Regions from separate parts of the Homo sapiens genome. Here regions 2 and 3 are each linked to region 1. Evidence: fine-mapped expression QTL. A gene starts in region 1. Each other region holds a variant in brackets. All regions are shown on one strand. Distances are from middle to middle. Region 1 holds the start of ASTL (astacin like metalloendopeptidase). Region 2 overlaps NCAPH (non-SMC condensin I complex subunit H). Region 3 has its middle 24 kb from the start of ADRA2B.

What was found. PIP is the estimated chance that this variant, and not a neighbour inherited with it, causes the effect. A credible set is the group of variants that fine-mapping cannot tell apart.
Region 2: its variant is the best candidate, but not a certain one, in a credible set for the expression of ASTL in minor salivary gland (GTEx, PIP 0.86).
Region 3: its variant is the best candidate, but not a certain one, in a credible set for the expression of ASTL in minor salivary gland (GTEx, PIP 0.65).

The regions. Positions count from the first base shown.
Region 1 is chr2:96,136,490-96,140,688 of GRCh38, forward strand. ASTL (astacin like metalloendopeptidase) reads right to left here and starts at 2,013. Exons shown (of 9, transcript NM_001002036.4): 1 at 1,893-2,013; 2 at 1,086-1,211. The coding sequence starts at 1,947. RefSeq lists an enhancer at 1,868-1,937 and a silencer at 2,828-2,917.
Region 2 is chr2:96,344,754-96,348,952 of GRCh38, forward strand. All of the region lies in intron 6 of NCAPH (non-SMC condensin I complex subunit H), which reads left to right. Among named protein-coding and RNA genes, the nearest start is that of NCAPH, 11 kb to the left of the region's middle. The variant G/A (reference allele first, on the strand shown) is at 1,817.
Region 3 is chr2:96,090,613-96,094,811 of GRCh38, forward strand. No RefSeq gene overlaps it. Among named protein-coding and RNA genes, the nearest start is that of ADRA2B, 24 kb to the right of the region's middle. RefSeq lists an enhancer at 1,629-2,144. The variant C/T (reference allele first, on the strand shown) is at 1,744.

The DNA of each region.
Region 1 (4,199 bases):
TGGGGTCACCAGCATTTGGGAGTTTTCTCCATTGGTTCTGGTTACCTGCAGACCACTCACGGTGATCCAGGGGTGGGATGGTGCCTGGGGCTCAAGGCTCAGCTGGCGCTGGGCTCCCAAGTCAGCTCACAGAGGAAGAAGGGGGCAGATCACACAGTGGCTACCACATCTGGTAGGATCTCACCCACCCTTAGGGCAAGGTTGTCCCCTGTTCAGCCCGATTGCTTCAACCCTGAGTGCTTCAGCCCTCATTGCTCCAACATCTGAACTCCAGTCTCCATTTCAACTGGCTTTGTTCAGGCTATTTATACACCCTCATTCCTCAGCTGACATCCCCAGACAGCAAGGCCCTGAGCCTGACTTTTGTTTTTTGTTTTTTGTGAGATGCTCTGTCGCCCAGGCTGGAGTGCAGTGGCGCAATCTCAGCTCACTGCAAGCTCCGCCTCCCAGGTTCATGCCATTCTCCTGCCTCAGCCTCCTGAGTAGCTGGGACTACAGGCGCCCGCCACCACGCCCGGCTAATTTTTGTATTTTTGGTGGGGACGGGGTTTCACTGTGTTAGCCAGGATGGTCTCGATCTCCTGACCTCATGATCTGCCCGCCTCAGCCTCCCAAAGTGCTGGGACTACAGGCGAGAGCCACCGCACCCAGCTGAGCTTCAGACTTCTTAATCACACCTGCAGACAGTCCTGCACAGGGTGGCTGACAATCTCAGACTGCGACTAACCGCTTAGCTCCACGCCCAGGCCCTTTAAGAGCTTGGTTTTTCTTATAAAAGTAACAATCCACTAAGAAAGATACAAAAAGAAAGAGTAGACTTAAGCAATTGCCCATAGAATTTCCACCCATTCACACCTGTAGTCCCAGCTGCTCGGGAGGCAGAGGCAGGAAGATCACTTAAGGCCAGGAGTTCAAGACCAGCCGGGGCAATATAGCAACACCACTCCATCTCTTAAAAACCACTTAGAGCCCAGAGTAAGCTGGTCCATTTCCTCCCAGGCTCTGCATTTCTGAGTGTTCGGTGTGGTTTTCACACTACATAACGTCGTGCCCCTCCAGGCCGTGAGAAGATGTAGTGCCCTCACCTTGGTTAATTGCAGGAATGTCCTTGTCCCCGGAGGCCTGGGTTCCCTCAGGGGTGAGGCCATCTGGGAAGCTGGTACCACAGGCTCCTGCGCAGCTGGAGGCCAGGGGCGCTCCTAGGATCACACCTGGTCCAGACAGACAGGGGCATACACAGATGCCTGGAGCACCCACCGGTGAGACCAGACAGCAGGACATGGGGTGGGTGTGGGGGATCAGACGGTAAGACTCAGTCCCTAGGAAGAGTAGGCTCCAGCACAAAGCCAAGGAGCCTTCCCAGCCTCCCTGCTCAACCCCAACTGGTGCCAAGGTCTAGATGACCTCAGGGAAGGAGCTCCCTTAGGGGGACCAAAAGGGACCATGTGCCCCACCTATGAGGTAGAGGAGGGGCAGGAAGGAAGGAGGCAGGACAGACCTCGGGTTCTGACGCCCGTGACGGGCAGGGCCAGCCTCAGACCCCACCTTATGACTCTCTCTCAGCCCAGGCTCTTGGACAATGGGCTCAGCCTGGATGACTCCCTGCCTGACCAGGCTGGAGTGGGGACTTACAGCCTACCCCCACCCCAAGACAAGTAGGCCTGGGGCACAACACTTATCTTCTGCCAGGCAGGCCCTCTGCTTCCAGGGCCTTCAGGAGGCCTCCCCTTGGCCCCCCAGGAGCTGACTTCTAGAATAACCCTGGAGAGCTCTGTGCTCTGAGCTACTGAGCTCAGCTACAATCCCTGCAGGCTCCAGCCACAACCTTCTAGCCTCTCCCCAGCTTTCTCCAGGCTGGAGCCAGCAGCAGGAGGGACAGGCAGCCAGCTTACCTGGCAAGGAGAGCAGACCCAGCACCCAAGGCCAGAGACCCCCTACACCCTCCATGGTAGAGCCCTGCTGCCCCTTCAGCAAACAAGACCAAGCCCCAGCAAGACACAGTAACCTAATTGCAGAACCGGCACCACCACCCCCTCTTAAATAGCAGCTGCTCCACCTCCCACCTTGCTCCCCTCAACCGCCTCCACCTGCAGCCCCGCCCCAACCACCTCCACCTGCAGCCCCGCCCCAACCATCTCCACCTGCAGCCCCGCCCCAACCACCTCCACCTGCAGCCCCGCCCCAACCAGCTCCACCTGCAGCCCCGCCCCAACCAGCTCTACCGGCAGCGCCACCCAAACCAGGTCTACTGGCAGCCCCTCCGATGCCTACCTGTGGTTCCCACCCCAGCCCAGTCCCCTTCCTGGCTGTAGCAGGTGAAAGACAGGAGGGGCCCGCTTGGGAGTGTGGCTCTTCTGAGGTTCCTTCCTGCCTCCAGGGGGCAGAGAAACATCGCAGAAAGTTGCTCCAGGCCTAGCTGAGGCCCCAGCCCAGGTATAGACCTATTCCTCCAGCGAGGGAGACCCCCTTTCCTACCCCGGCCTGTGCTTAGACATGGGGAAAGCTGCCTGAGACCCTGGGGCGCCCCCCGTGTATCTCCGGAAGGAGGAAAAGGTCACTGCACTTTCACAAGCTTTTATTTTAGTACACATATAGAAAAGTTCACTATCACAAGCACAGGGCTCCAGGAAATTTCACAAACTGAACAGTGTGCAGCACCCTAGAAAGCCTGCCATGTGGGAAAGGTGGAACCCCCAGATGCCCAGAGCCTCGCAGGGAGTCCACCCCCTAATCCCACAGCAGCTGGCATGATCAGTCAGTATTTATTCCCATTTCACAGATTTGGAAATTTAAACTCCTTACCTATATCCCCCCTCCTCCATACCCCTGAGCCCCAGAGCCAGGTCACTCAGGGCCCCACCTGGATTGAAATCCCAGAGGCGGAGCATGTCAGCGCTGGGCAGCATTTGGGGACACCCCCACAGTCACCTGCACCCAGTGAAGGGAAGCGACAGAGCCAAGAAGAATAGCTATTGTCCACAAGGACCTTTCAGCATTCCCACTGTGCCTGGAATCCAGAGCTTCTCCAAAGATAGGAATCAGAATCACAGGGAGACCATGATGGAGGCAGACGCCCTGCTGCCAGGGCAGGGTATTGACAGATGTCAGGATACACACCATGGATATGCTAGTTAGCTTGTTGTGGTCATCATTTCACAAGGTATGCATATGTCAAAACATCACGTTGTATACTTAAACATATACTACTTTTATTTGTCGATTATGCCTCAGTAAACCTAGAAAAAATAAGTAAAATAAAGAATAGGACCCATCAAAAAACAAATGCACAAGGCTGACCACTTAAGATGAGTGTTCAGGAGGGCGCGGTGGCTCACGCCTATAATCCCAGCACTTTGGGAGGCCAAGGCAGGTGGATCACGAGGTCAGGAATTCAAGACCAGACTGGCCACCATGGTGAAACCCCATCTCTACTAAAAGAATACAAAAATTAGCTGGGCACGGTGGCGGGCACCTGTAATCCCACCTACTCGGGAGGCTGAGGCAGGTGAATCACTTGAACCCAGAGGTGGAGTTTGCAATGAGCCAAAATCGCGCCACTGCACTCTAGCCCGGGGGACAGAGTGAGACTCCATCTCAAAAAAAAAGATGAATGTTCAGTAAAAAAAAATAAAGTAGACCGGGCGCAGTGGCTCATGCCTGTAATCCCAGCATTTTGGGAGGCCAAGGCAGGCAGATTACTTGAGGTCAGGAGTTCGAGACCAGCCTAGCCAACACGGTGAAACCCCATCTCTACTAAAAATACAAAAATTAGCCAGAAATCCCTTGAACTCAGGAGGCAGAGGTTGCAGTGAGCCAAGATTGTGCCACTGCACTCCAGCCTGGGCAACAGAGTGAGACTCTGTCTCAAAAAACAAAAGAATTAAAATAATGATAAGAAATAATCACCCTGCTTGGGGAGAGAAACAGAGTCTTTATTAGGACATGCAGTTGGTCTGAGGATATTTTGCTGAGCGAAACAAGCCAGTCACAAAAAGACAAATCCTGCATGCTTCTACCTCCAAGAGGTGTCTAGAGTAGCCCAGTGCACAGGGACGGAAAGTGGAACGGAGCTCACAAGGGGCTGGGGACTGGGGAGGGGAGTTATCATTTAATAGGTATAGGATTTCAGGTTCGCAAGATGAAAAAGCTCTGGATATCTGTGCACAACGATGTGAATACACTTTACTAAACACTTGATA
Region 2 (4,199 bases), 210 kb after region 1:
AACAAATGGTACTGGAGGCCTCATCTATAATTAGCACAGTTAATTTAAAGCAAACAGGTGTTACTACAATTTTATTTTTTAATTCTGCCATTAAAAACATTGTTTCAGTGAACATTCTAATACATATTATCTTTGCACTCGTATGGGAGAATATCTGTAAGAAAATTCTGAGACATGGATTTTAAGTTGCCCTCAAAAAAAGGTACTAATTTACTCTCCCACTAGCAGTAGACTAGATTACTTTTCTCTCTTACCTCCACAACATTCATAAATGGTAATTAAGGTCACAAAACTAGAATTGGTCACCAAGGAAATGAATGTATATGGGAAAAAGACTGGGAGTTCCTTTTCCCCAATCTTAGGAGTTCAGAGAGCTGAAAAAACATCCAGTAGGTAGGAGGAAAACCAGAAGAGCGTGGTATCCAAATGAGAAAATATTTCAGGGAGTGGGGAATGATCAACCATGCCAAATGTGGCAACCTGAGGCCACTAATGAGCTTGGAGTGGGGGCCCCTCTGAAACTCAAGCTCAGACCTCCAGGGAAGGGCTTGGCTGGTGCTAGTGTCCCTGAGTTTGAGGGAGGGGATTGTGTGCCCAGGACCCAGACCCTGGAACGGGGGCATGCTGGCTGGTGCTGGTGTCTCAATAAGGCTGGTTCTGTGAGTGTGAAAATCTGCCAGTGGGGTTCAGCTGCTGCTACAGGTGGGCTCTGCTGCAGCCGGGGTGGAACACTGCTGGGTGACGCTCTCCTAACATGCAACCTGCAGAAAGGAGCAGTGCCTTCTCTCCCTTGGAGCCTGTAGTCTCCCTCTAGTGCCCCTACTTGGTAAACCCTAACAGGGAGCTGCCGGCAAAGCTGAATGTCCCAGACCCTGCATCACAGCCAAGGAGAGAGGGTAGGCTTAGAGCTGAGAGGCAGTAGCTTAGTAACTGGGACATGGTGAAGTGTCATGAGGATTACTGACAAAAGACTCTGGGGTGGGGAGAGAGATATATATAGAGAGAGTAAATGAAAACAAATATGCAAAATGCTACCCATTGGGTAATCTGAGTAGAAGCTTTACAGAGATTCGTATTACTGTTTCAACATTCTTGTGGATCTGAAATTTTTTTTATGATAAATGGGAGGAAAGGACTGAAAACACTTGAATATAGGTAGTTGTTTTGAAGAGTTTTGCTATAATTTGGAGCAGAGTACTGGGATAGCAAATGGAGGGAAAAGTAAGGCCAAGAGTTTTGATTTTGTTTTTGAATGGGAGAAATGACAGCATATTTTGTTGATGACAGCAGTCTAGTTTGGAGAAGGGATTATTGATGATGCAGCAGAAAGGAGAATTGCCAGGCTGATGTCCTTGCGCAGGTGAGAGGTAGGGAATGGACAGCACAGGTTGGGCTCGGCTGACGGGTGTTGTTTGGGTGCACTCATGGGGGAGCCTTCTGGATACTGTCTTAAAACAGGAAGCCAGGTCATCAGCTTACAGTGAGGATAGGGAAGGAAGGCACTGGGGGCGTGAGGAGGGGAAAGGGTAGGAAAGAGTCCTCTAGGAGGTGGGCGAGTACATGAACTAGGGAGATATGGTGTGACTGTTAGACAACTTAGGGTCTACTTGAGGGTGGTGGCAGATGGATATAAAGTGAGGTCAGTCAGCATTATTTTGTGTCTCTGTCCAGCCGTGAATAGCTGTGTGGGTACAATCATGGAGTAGGCAGAAAGTTGGGTTTAATATGGGATCCTGTTGAGCTGAGTGAATGGACACAGCTGGAAAGGGACACTGGAGGAGGTGAGTGCATGTGTAAAGGTGTGGTTGCATTCACT[G/A]CTTAGGGAATTTTACCTCGGAAGACAGGGGAATGAGGGCAGTGGAAAGTAATATAATCAGTAGATTGTAGGCCTGGTGGGGTCAAAGACTTCGTGGTGTTGGGGACAAGAAGGGGTGAGCTGGAAATGTAGGAGGTGGTTGCCAGAGAGGGGCCCTAGAATTGAGGATATAGAGAGGTTGCAGTCATGGTTAATGAGTCAACTCAGAGCAGGCAAGGGAGCAAATGGCGGAGGCGGGGTAGGGGTCTTACTAGGCTGTCTTGGTGTCTTACTTGGCTGTCTTGGAGTCCTGGGTTTCTTAGGATGGAGACCATTGAAGGAGAGGATATCAACCAAGAGACAGTGTACTGGATGGATCAACATATGGATATTGAAATCAATAAGAGCTACACCAGGAATAAATTTGGAGACTAGTAATGAGCCATAAACTAATACTAAGATCTTCTGAGAAGAAGGACAGGTTGTGACCTGGGGATTGGAAGATGACTGCAACACAGATGGGCAGACAGTGGCAAAAGCTGATGTTGTACTCAGAGCTGGGGCATTAGAAATTGGGAGGGGGGATAGTTGGATGCTGCAATCACCTGGCCCACCTGTAGGCCACTGGTTTGACGGCTGTGAAGAGAAAGCAGCCACTGCAGAGGCCCGCAGGGGAAGCCTATCCTCAGGCTGGCACCATGTCTCAATTGGAGCAGTGCCCCTCAGCCTGTTTTTTTTTTTTTTTTATCACTTTTGCCCCTTCAGACCCATTTAGACATTTTGTGCCTACTCCTTCCCCTTAAAATGAAATACTAAGGAATAAGATTTTGTCAGATAGGGTAGAGATTTGGATAGGCAAACATTATTGTAATATCTAAGATTTTTCCCACCTAGCCTCTAGGAAACAGTTTTCACCCCTTGAGAGTGAAATGAGAACACCATTGAGAATACATAAATTAGAACAAGTAGGTGGAGATAATCCTCAGGAACTAAGTGGGCGATAGAGAGAATTTTGCTGATGACTGAGTCTAGAGGGCCCTGAGGAAATACCAGTTTTTGAGGAGGAGTGGGAGATGGGGGCTGTGGTGGGGTGGGAGGTGGCATCAGAGTTCTATAGATCTTAGAGTCCAAGAAATGTAGAATTGTGGGTGTCTTGGGTCTTTTTGTGTAATTAATAAATAAGCCAGATAAAGGGCAACAGTGAGATGAATGCCAGTGTTCTTACAGCAGATGGTAGTGGTAAGACTGAGTGTGCAAGGGGCTAGGGAGGTGGGGCCTTGCCATGCCCACTCTGAGTGGTGAGGTGAGCAGGGCATTGCTGTGCACGGGCAGGGAGGGGCCAGAGGAAGGAGAGTCACTGAGAATGAGGCCTAAGAGGGAGGGGAGAGGCGAGAGCAGCTGGCTCTTGTGGGGAGAGGGAGTTGTATTTTTTCCTTATGTGTGTGTCAGCATTAACCGTGGGTGATGTGTGTAGCATATCACCATGTTTAAAGACCTTGACGTAGGCCGGGTGCGGTGCTTAGCTGTTGACCTGGGAAGAGTTGTGAATCTCACTGTCATATACTATAAAAAATGGGGAACGCTGGCCCCAACCACATCTCGGTTTTATATTAGTGAATCCATTTATGCCAAGGTCTCTCTCTTTTTTTTTTTTTTTTTGAGATGGAGTCTTGCTCCGTCGCCCAGGCTGGAGTGCAGTGGCGCTATCTCAGCTCACTGCAAGCTCCACCTCCCGGGTTCACGCCATTCTCCTGCCTCAGCCTCCAGAGTAGCTGGGACTACAGGCACCCGCCACCATGCCCGGCTAATTTTTTGTATTTTTAGGAGAGACGGGGTTTCACCGTGTTAGCCAGGATGGTCTTGATCTTCTGACCTTGTGATCCGCCGCCCGCCTCGGCCTCCCAAAGTGCTGGGATTACAGGTGTGAGTCACCGCACCTGGCCTATGTCAAGGTCTTTAAACATGGTGATATGCTACACACATCTGAAGTGGTATTATTTATTAGTCATAGGGATCCAGAAAGCCCTTTCTACGTTCCCTTCCCTCCCCCAATTCTCCTTGTTTTTTCCCCTTCCCAGATAATCTGGAATTTATCTTACTGTCATTATTATTATTATTTTTTTTTGAGACAGGGTCTCGCTCTGTGGCCCAGGCTGGAGTGCAGTGGCACGATGTTGGCTCACCGCAACCTCTGTCTCCCCGGTTCAAACGATTCTCGTGCCTCAGCCTCCCATGTAGCTGGGACGCACCACCACGCCCAGCTAAATTTTTTTGTATTTTTAGTAGAGATGGGGTTTCACCATGGTGACCAGGCTAGTCTCGAACTCCTGATCTCAAGTGATCTACCCACTGGGGCTCCCAAAGTGCTGGGATTACAGACGCGAGCCACCGCTCCTGGCCCTTA
Region 3 (4,199 bases), 46 kb before region 1:
GGCCAGGTGCCTGATGGTCCATCTTTCCCAACATTTTTCAACGTAGGCATTATTATCTCATTTCACAGACGAGAAAAGTGGTCTCATGTTACACCACTTGCACACCGTTACTCCTAAGGTTTTTGTGAGTCAGAGTAAGCGAACTGCTAGAACAAAGAATCCCAGATCTCTGCAGCTGAGCACAGGCTGATTTCTTGCTCATGTCACAGTCTAGGGTGAATCCAAGTGGTGATTCAGGGACCCAGGCTCTATTTATTCTCTAGTGCTACCATCTTTAGCTTGTGGCCTGCATGCTTGCAACAAAAGGGAAACTGAGTAAAGGATCCTGCTTGGGAGACTTTCATGGGCCAAGTGGATGTGGCGTACGTCTCTCTTCCACCCCCTTTCCATTGGCCCAACTCATGCCTAGATCAAGGGGGCTGGGAAATGTGGTCTCAGGGTGGTCAGGAAGAGGGGGACACCAGGAAGAGGGGGACACCCAGGATGTCAGGGGACTCTGGATGGTACATCCCTGAGCAGCTGATCCTGGGCCTGTGTCCTTAGCCAGAGGCTACTGCCCTTCATGCACCAGGGAGGAACTGGGCACCCTGGGGAATGGCAAGTAACTGGGGTGGCGCCTGGACTTTGTCCTGTGGGCAGCCAGGAGCCACCAACAGGCTTTCAGGAGGGAAGTGCCCTGGGCAAGCCTGGGTTGCAGAGAGATAAGACTGCCGAGGAGAGAGCGTCGGGGAGGCAGGGGCGAGGTGACCAGGCCTGCAGTTCTTGTGAGCAGCCCAGAGCCCTTGGGGACCCCAGGCTGAGTCTCTGGACCCCTGCTCCAGCGCTCATCCTCCTCCTTCCCAGCCCATCATGAAATCCTGGCCACCCAAGCCTCAGCCATGCCTTCCCAACAGGGACAATAGGCAGGACACCCAGCTCCGCCCCAGAATGCAGCTGAGGGGAAGGCCGAGGGGAAGGCAGCGGAGGGCAGACGTGAGGCTATAATTCTATTGCCAGCTTCTGGGAGCCAGCAGGGGCAGAGGCACGGATAACCACATTTGGTTCATTGCAGGCGCCGGGGACATCACTCAGGCCCGGCAAGGAGCCAGTCATCCAGACTGCATGTGCCCTGCAGGGAAACCGTCTCCCAGCAGCCTCGTTAGGGTAGGGGCTTGAACAGGAGACCGAGGGCAGACCTCGGCAGGGCCATTTGAGAGGCTGGGAGGCTGGCAGCTTCTGAGAACCACTGCCAGGAGCTGGTCCCTGACTCTAAACCCCCTCTCCTGGAGCCATGGGTCGGTCGCACGGGGCAGTGTGAAAGGAGCCAGGTGGTGGGGGTGGTGCCCTCCCCAGGGGAAGCTTGGTGAGGCAGGCAGGGAATCGGGCCCTGGATCTTGGCTTCCTTAGCTGGAGCGGAGAGGCGTTTCCTGACGTATGGGAACACCTGGTGTGCAGTTACACGCTGGCTCCTGTAAACCTCCTCGCACCCATTCCCACTCAATGCTGCCTGGTAACAACACCTCTCCCTCTTCTGTCCCCTCCAGGCCCTTCCAGGCTTTGCAAAAGGAGATGGGTGTGGCCCCTGTGGGATTTCCCCAGTGCCCAACCCTGATGGCAGCTGCTGGCTCCTCCCTGTCCTCGTCCTCCCTCCCATCACAGGCCTCCTGCAACAACCACCCCACCCCCCAGAGCTGGCCCCCAGGACATGCCTGTTTTCAGGCTTGGCTTGCACTACCCTGCCTCGTCTCATGAACCTTGTGAGCC[C/T]TGTGCTCTCCCCAATCTACAGAGGATGGCCGGCTCCCCCAGAAAGGGGAGGGAGCTTGCCTGAGGTCGCACAGCAACAGGGGGTAGAGTCAGTCCATGAACTCACAGGGGTGTCCCGCAGGAATTGCTGCCACTTCCCTCCTGCCCTGGCCCTCCTCTCTATCTTCAGACCTCCACCCTTCCCTCCCACTGCAGGGTCCCTGGAGCTGAGGATATTATAACCATGCCCCACATACACACTCTTCCTTCCTGGTGCCCCAGGAATGGTGGGAAACCAATGCCCGCCTTTACTGGCAGAAGAAGCCAGAAAGGATCCCCAAAGGGCAAGAGGGAAGCTGGCAGCTGGGAGGCTCACCTGCAGGTCAGCCCTAGAGGCGCTCTGTGGCGGCCGGGGGAAGGTGGCAGCTGGGACAGGCTTAGAAGACAGGAGAGGAGGGAAAGGCTAAGGAGGCTCATGGTATTTAGGATCCTAGTTAAGGATCTTTACTCACTCAGCCATGTAATCCAATGAAGTATCAGCTTCAAGCCAGTGCCTAGGTGAAAATTGTTGATATTCTAATTCCTTCACAAACAGCTTCTGCATGTGCCCAAAGCTGTTGCTTCATCTCCTCCATATTTGGGCCTTGCCCCACCTCTCTCGCTGACAGGGTGGCATCCTGTGGGCAGAGGTCTGGGGCAGGCCCCTGGCAGGAATAACTCCTGTAGCACTGGCCTTTCTAGGGGCAGCACAGGGGAGGAGAGGGACCCTTTGGAGTCAGAGGCCTGGGTCTGCATGTCCAGCCTCTCATTTATGGGCTGTGTGCCCCTGGGCAAGTGGCTTCCCTTTTCAAGGATTCAGTTTCCTCTTGTGTAAATGGGCTAGTGTAGCCAAACTTTCAGGGTGGTTCTGAGGATCCCATGCTGGGCAGTTTACACCACACCCGGCACTCAGCAACCGGGAGCTCCCACTGTGACTTGCCAGAGTCTCAGCCACCTTGGGGCATTTCTTCTGTCCACTGTGCCATAGCCTTTAAGTCAGCTTCTGGAAAACCGAACTCCTTGTCTTGGTCTTCACTCCAGATCCTCCACTTAACTTCCACATTTCTGACCTGAGAATGACATTCCCCTATGCTGAGGCTAAAAGCTATGAAATAATCTTTAACTTTGTCTCTTGGCTTAAGTGGCCACCACGCTTTGATTAAGCCCCTCACTCAAATTTGCTTTCACCCCTTCACCCTTCACTCCATATTCAGACCAGGGTCAGGAACAGAGGCTGTCCATGGCAAGGGCCCATTCTGTATGAGCTACAGGGTGTGGGCTAGAGGTGGGGATACAGAGTGGGGGCCCTGCCCTCTGGGAGCTTCCACTCAAATGCAGGAGGACAACTTGCCCAATCTTCACCACGACAGAGGCAAGGGGCCAACAGTGCTGCTGACCATGAATGAATGGAAAGGCCACAGGGAGGAGGGGGCCTTTGGATGGTACCATGCAGAAGGAGGGTAAAGGCGTTCCAGGCTCGAGAACACTGACTGTTCATTTGATGATATTTAAGTGCCTGTTACGTACAGGAGGAGGCTTACACCAAGTAACTAGGACAGAAGACTCTGTTCTCAGAGGGTATATGAATTCAAACACGATTAGAATTATGGGGAAAATAAAACAAGGTCATGTGGCAGAGAGTGACAATGGGAGGCCTCTCTAAGGAGACATTTCCAGAAGATCTCAATGATAGAAAGGAGCCACATGAGACTGAAGGGAGAACATTCCAGGCAAAGGGAACAGCAAATAGACATATAGACTAGTGGAGTAGAATTGAGAGTCCAGAAATAAACCCAATATGTCTATAGTCCATTGATTTTCAACAAGAGCAGCCCGAACATTCAATGAGAAAAGAATAGTCTTTTTGATAAATGGTACTGGGAAAACTGGATATCCACATGCTAAATAATGAAAATGAAGCCCAACTTCACACCATCTATAAGAATTAACTCAAAATGGATCAGAGATCTTACATTTAGTAAGTGCTTAAACTATAAAACCCTTGGAAGAAAATATAGGGGTAAATATTCATGACCTTGGATTTGGTGATGAATTCTCAGCTATGACACCAAAAGTGTAAGCAACAAAAGAAAAAATAGGTAATTAGAATTCATCATAACTAAAAACTTGTTCCTCAAAGAATACCATCAAGAAAGTCAAAAGACAACCTACAGAATGGGAGAAAGTATTTGAAAATCAAATACTTACACACCTGATAAGGATCTAGTATCCAGAATACATAAAGAACTCTTTCAACTCAATAACAAAAAGACAAAGAACCCAACTGAAAAACTGGGCAAAGGACCTGAATAGGCATTTCTCCAAAGACAATATATGAATGGCCAAACAGCACATGAAAAGATGTTTAACATCACTGTTTGTTAGGGAAATGCAAATTAAAATCACAATGAGATACTACTTCACACTCGCTAGAATGA